2 separate regions of the Homo sapiens genome follow, and region 2 is linked to region 1. Evidence: fine-mapped expression QTL. Tissue or cell type: whole blood. Region 1 holds a variant in brackets; the other region holds the start of a gene. All regions are shown on one strand. Distances are from middle to middle.

The links. PIP is the estimated chance that this variant, and not a neighbour inherited with it, causes the effect. A credible set is the group of variants that fine-mapping cannot tell apart.
Region 2: KIAA0408 starts here. The variant in region 1 is the best candidate, but not a certain one, in a credible set for the expression of KIAA0408 in whole blood (TOPMed, PIP 0.62).

Annotation. Positions count from the first base shown.
Region 1 is chr6:127,514,602-127,517,364 of GRCh38, forward strand. It overlaps MTCL3 (MTCL family member 3), which reads right to left. Exons shown (of 7, transcript NM_001400265.1): 2 at 913-2,101; 3 at 222-446. The coding sequence starts at 2,013. SOGA3-KIAA0408 (SOGA3-KIAA0408 readthrough) reads right to left here. Exons shown (of 13, transcript NR_174482.1): 2 at 913-2,101; 3 at 222-446. LOC107986642 (a long non-coding RNA gene) reads left to right here. Exons shown (of 2, transcript XR_001744337.2): 2 at 1-699. Among named protein-coding and RNA genes, the nearest start is that of MTCL3, 3.4 kb to the right of the region's middle. RefSeq lists an enhancer at 206-730 and a silencer at 1,418-1,647. The variant A/G (reference allele first, on the strand shown) is at 1,611.
Region 2 is chr6:127,457,990-127,460,752 of GRCh38, forward strand. It overlaps KIAA0408, which reads right to left and starts at 1,400. Exons shown (of 6, transcript NM_014702.5): 1 at 1,186-1,400. The region is part of intron 7 of SOGA3-KIAA0408 (SOGA3-KIAA0408 readthrough); the gene reads right to left.

The sequences.
Region 1 (2,763 bases):
GCTCGTTTGCTGCCAGGCCCTCCACACACTCTGCACTCTTTAGAGCCACCTGCCAGTTCTCTCCCTTCTGAGACCCTAGTATTTTGTGGTTAGCGCTACGAAACTGTGTCCCTAAGGCTCCTTGCCAGTCGCCACTGAAGACTTCTCAGCCTAAAGAGCCCTTGGCCAAAGTCCCCACCCACCGCCCCTGCCGCGCGCCATTGAGCCCCCGCGCCGCAGACCTTGAGGTCCTGCTCCAGGCTGCGCAACAGCTCCCCGTCGATTTCCCCGGTCTGGGCGTAGCGGAGCCTTTTGCGCTCGGCTTTGCGGAGGCGGTACTGCAGGATCCGGCAGTTTTTGTTGGCTCTCTCCAACTCGTGGCGCATTTCCTGCAGTTGACAGGCATCCTCCTCGAAGAAAGTGTCCCTCATCTCGTCCATCTCGGTTCTCAGCTCATCGATCTCGTTCTGAGGCGGTGACAGGCCGCGTGTCAAAATCAAACTCGCTTCCAGCCCTTCCGACACACACCGTACACACCCCATTCCAATTCCAAATTCTCAGCTTTAATTGCCCTCTCTCTCCACGAGACAGGAGTGACAAGGAGCTGAGTACAGAAGAGGAAACTGGGGGAAAAAGGCCCACTTTAGGCCCTCTCTCGTTCTCTTACTCTACCTCTCTCCAGGAAGAAGTGTGACAAACCATTATAATTAGAGAAACGGAGGCCCAGATTTGAATTTAAATGAAAACCTCGCGTTACTGAGAGCAGATTCAAATTCCGGCAAGGCCTAGGAAACCCCCTCCCTCCTTTCTTGTTCTCCTCCCTCTTCAAGGCTCCCTAACAGGTTAGCAGCCTCTGATCCCTGCCGGTACACGCCCTAATCCTCCCAGGCCCACTCTTCCCATCCCCCAGCCGGGTCCCCCCACCCTCCTCACCTTGAGAGTCTCGTTTTCCTCTCGCAGCTTCTCCATCTCCTCTTGCATTTCTTCCTGCTCTTGGAGCTGCTGCGGGTGCGGCTGCGACGAAGGGGGCGCTGCCGCCTGCATGCCCCCGCCGCTCGCGCTGCCCTCTGCGCTCTGCTGGGGGCCCTCCGCCGCCGCCGCCATTGGGGAGGCGGAGGCGACGGCCAGGGTCTCGCAAACGGCAGGGGGGCCAGACACCGGGGAGCTGCGGCTACTGCTGCCGCCGCCGTTCTTAGCGTGCATCTGAGCCGCGGCCGCCGCCGCTGCCGCCCGCTCCTTCTTGAGATGGAACTGGATGAGCTCAGACTGCAGACATCCTTCTTTCCAGTAGCTCCCTCCACCACCGCTGCCGCCCCCCGCAACGCCGCTTCCGGAGTTTCTGCTGCCGGTTCCTGGGGTTTTGCCCGCAGAAGAGGAGGATGGAGAAGGGGAGGCCCCCTCCCCGCCGCTGCCGCCCCTCTGCTGAGCGCGTACGCCTTTCCCTCGCCAGCCCCTGGGCGGCGGCGGCTGCGGAGCGCCCCCCTCCCTTTCCCCGGAGCCGCCGCCGGCTCCTCCTCCTTCCCCGCCCCCTCCTCCCCCTTCTCCGAGCGGAGGGGGTTCCCCGAGTTTCGAGGGCACGGACTCTAGCTCCCGAGGCGGCTCCTCGGGCGGTCCGGGCCTCCTGCCGCCCA[A/G]AGCGGCCAGGGTCGCGGCGGGGGCCGCTTCAGCACCAGCCACAGGCTGGACAGCTCCCGGAGCGGCCCCTTTGGGCGCCAGGGGCGTCGCCTTCTCGGCCCCACCTCCGCCTCCTCGGATGCTGGCGGGCGGCCCCGTGCGGCTCCCGGTCTTGTTACCCTGCTGTTGCTGCTGCTGCAGCTGCTGCTGCCGAACAGAATTGAGTTTAGTGCCGGCCCCCACTGGGGACCGGGTGGCCGCGATTGTCTGTCGCAGCGAACTGTCCCTCGGTCTAGCGGGTGACTGAGCTCGCTGCTGCTTTCTGCTGCTGCCCTCCGGGTGCAGACGAGCCTCAGTGGCTGCAGCGGCGGGAGAAGCTGCTGCTGTGGCAGGGGCAGCGCCCCCGATTGGTGGCTGACTCATGGCTATGAACCTACCAGATGCGATTTGGAAGAGCCCATTACTAGATCATCCTCTTCCCTCTTCACCGCCGCCAACCTTCCTTCCTAAGCTGGGACAGAAACAAAAGGAGAGAAGAAGACAACATGTCTGAATTTTTGCAGAGCAAAGGGTGATATTGCTCCATTTGGATGGCGCTTAATAGAAGCTTTGACTTTAGGAATAGGATGCAGGGCTGTCTTTAGGAATAGGATGGAGGGCTGTCAATTCTCATTTTGCCCAGGGTGGCGCTGTCTCCATCTCACTCCACCTCAGCAAAATGACGGATCTGAAAGCAGCTGAACCTTACATTCTCATGGTAGCAGGCTTTGGAAAGGGTGAGATACAGAGTCAGACAGGAATTGATGGAAAGGGAGATATAAAAGAAAAGAGGATAAAGTGGAAAAGAAGCTTCAGAAAGAAAAGATATCCATATATTAGAGTTGTCAACTCTGCTTTTACAACTTTGGCTTTCCTTACCATCAAATCCATATGTAAAGCCTAGTTTACTGGAGAAAGTTTTCATTTAATTAGTATTCCCAAGTTCAATTAGAGGAAAAGGGTTATGATGTAGGGTTCCTAGAGAATATTTTCTACGGATAAATGACACTTTCCCCAGGCAGCTCCAACCCTTAATGTTGTTTTTGGGAAAATGCACCCAACTTCCTTTATAATAGAACTAAAAGAAAATATAAATAATGAATGCCTTTAAATCAATCTCAGTTTCAAGAAAAT
Region 2 (2,763 bases), 57 kb before region 1:
TGCTAAACATATCACTTTTCACATAATTAAAGATTTTTCATTTATAAGAGGTTACATATTCCAATAGAAATGCCACACACAGTAGGTACTGCTAATCTCACAATTCCTAGAAGACTCATTTGGCCTGAAGATGTTTTGCTTCTGCTTAACTTTGATGGATTAGGAATTCCCCAGCTTATAACCTATCAGAGTAATGTACCATTTACCTCCTAAATTCTCTATCCCTTTCTCCAGGCTATTATAATCACTTGAATTATTTCAATGAATTAATAAATCTCATTCCTCTCTATTGTTCACTTGCAATTGAATCTTTCCAAAGACCACCATGATTTGATTTTGTTAGAGTAAAAGGGAAATTTTTTTCATTGCTGTGTATTGCTGATTTAGCACATTCCTCATGCTCCAACAAGGTCAAAGAGACACTACCACATGCAATTCCGAATGAATCAACTTTACCGTTTCATTTAATTATCTTCTTCCTTGTTTTCTTTACAGTTATTTACTCAAATTAGAAAACATCCAAGCTGTATGCACACTGATTTTACTTATAAAATGCAAACTTTAAAAGCAAACATTTGGTTTGAGTAAACAAATGTCTAAAACTAACCATCGTGAACAAAAGACATAGTGGTAAGTTTCCCTCCTAAACGTAGATTATTCAATTATGAATGGCATAGACTTCAGCTCAAATTACAGAAACACTAACTCTACAGTGAGTCCACCACCACCTTAGATAAAACTAAAATTTATTTTTCACCGCAATTTTCAAATACCAAGTCTCCAGGATTGTGACCTTTAATTTGCAAATGTTAAAAGTCTTTATATGAATAAAAAAAATCACATTTGAATAAATATACTTAGTGAAAATCAATGATGGGCAAAGTGCTTTTCAAACAACTGAGAAGCAGTGTTGGAAAAACAGTCTCAAAGAGCGGATGGTACTGTCAGTCCACAGTTGGGAAATCCACCCTGAGCAGCTGAACAGCCTTTTTCCTAGGAGTCAGTACAATCTGTTATGCACCCCGCCCACTGTTTTTAAGCCCAGACACAGACAACAGCAGAGACAGATGTTGAAATTACACTCCACTTAAACAGTATCCATAGTTTAAAACATCTCAACAGCAGCCCCTTTGTATCCTGCCATAATTAGTCACTTGCTTGTAAACTTGCCGGAAAGAAACATACCTTTCACACTGGGGAGAAATCCTATGGATGCTCGACCACTGGTCAATTAGCAGTGGAAGAAAGTGGATGGCTAGCTGTCTTAAAGAGAAAAGTCTCAGCTCGGTGAATCTCGATTCTTTACAAGAAAAGGGGATGCAAAATAAGTCCAACCATTCCACAGAGCAGTACTGACAAGTCCCTTTGAAACCTTCACCACTTTTACAAGTCAAAAAGCTGCTCAGCTTAGTGTCACAGCAGCAGCTGAGACTACTGTGACGTCAGTTACTTGGAGGCGGCCTTCAAGCCACCTCTTCCAACCAGAGCTCTGTAACTTTAGAGCAGCTCATGCTCTGGGTAAACAACTCCAGGTCCAGGACATTTTTAGCTTTTATAATGGAGCCCAGTATTTTCAAACTTGCCAAAAGAGCTGGTTGTTAACATCATACAATGACAATGGCCAATTTTAGATTTATTTTATTAGGAAAGTAAACTCATTTTTTTATAGGCAAGAATTATCTCCCTCCTTCCATAATTCTTTCTCCTTCTCAGCTGGTGGCAGGATGTACTCTGCTGCACCTTTAGAAGTTTGCATCTGGATGTGGCAGAACAATATGTGTAGCATAATTATATATATTATGCACTCTCAAAAGATCTGTGAAAGTTATCAAACTTCTATCTTCAAATAAAATAGAAATGGAACATAAAGTCCAACCTCTTAGCTCTCTGTGATTCTGACAGTGTGTTGCTTTTATCTACAGTAGTAGCGATGTCTTTACGTTAGAGAAAATCAGAGCCCATGGGAAAGGATGAGATTTCTTATTGTGGGAGGACAAAACACACACACACACACACCCCAAAAATGAGATACCTATGGGCTTATTTTCCACTAAAGTGTGCTGCAGCCATAGGAAGAGAAAGCAGCCTAAGTGTATGGAAAAGCTCTCTAAATCATGATCAAATCAGCCTGTTCTGAAATGCTAGGAGATCTTGCCTCCCCAGCGACATTTTCAGGTTTATTGTGGCTTTGTACACACATGCATCTGATGATATTTGGTTTAATTTAGTCAAAAAAGTCTCTAGAGCAATTTTTTGCCTAACTTAGCAAATACACAAGTTTAAACAATAAGGTCTTATCTTCAAGTCTGAAGAGCTTCCCTGGTGTGGTCTTTAAAGTAATACATATTCACTCACATTATTTTCACCTGCTTCCAGATAAACATTTCATGAGGAGCTAAAGTTTAGTAATAGTAACCTGCTCACAGTAGGACTTTAATACATGTAGGACAATCAAATGAAACCATACTCTGTGTCTGGAAAGCCTGACATCATAATCTCAACAGCAATAACAACAATAACAGTGATAGTTATAGTAATAATAGTGATTATTCACTGAGGGGCAACCCTCTGCAAGGTTCTGTGCTAAGTACTTTGAACAGACCTTTATCTGAGTTCACCCTCAGAGCAATTCTGTCTCTAGATACTGATAATCTGATCTTACTGATAAAACCCAAGCAAGGCTCATTGTGGTAAAGCATCATGCAAAAGTTCATAGAAATGCACCCATGTGGAGGAAACGGGTTTGAACTGTTTTGTCTGATT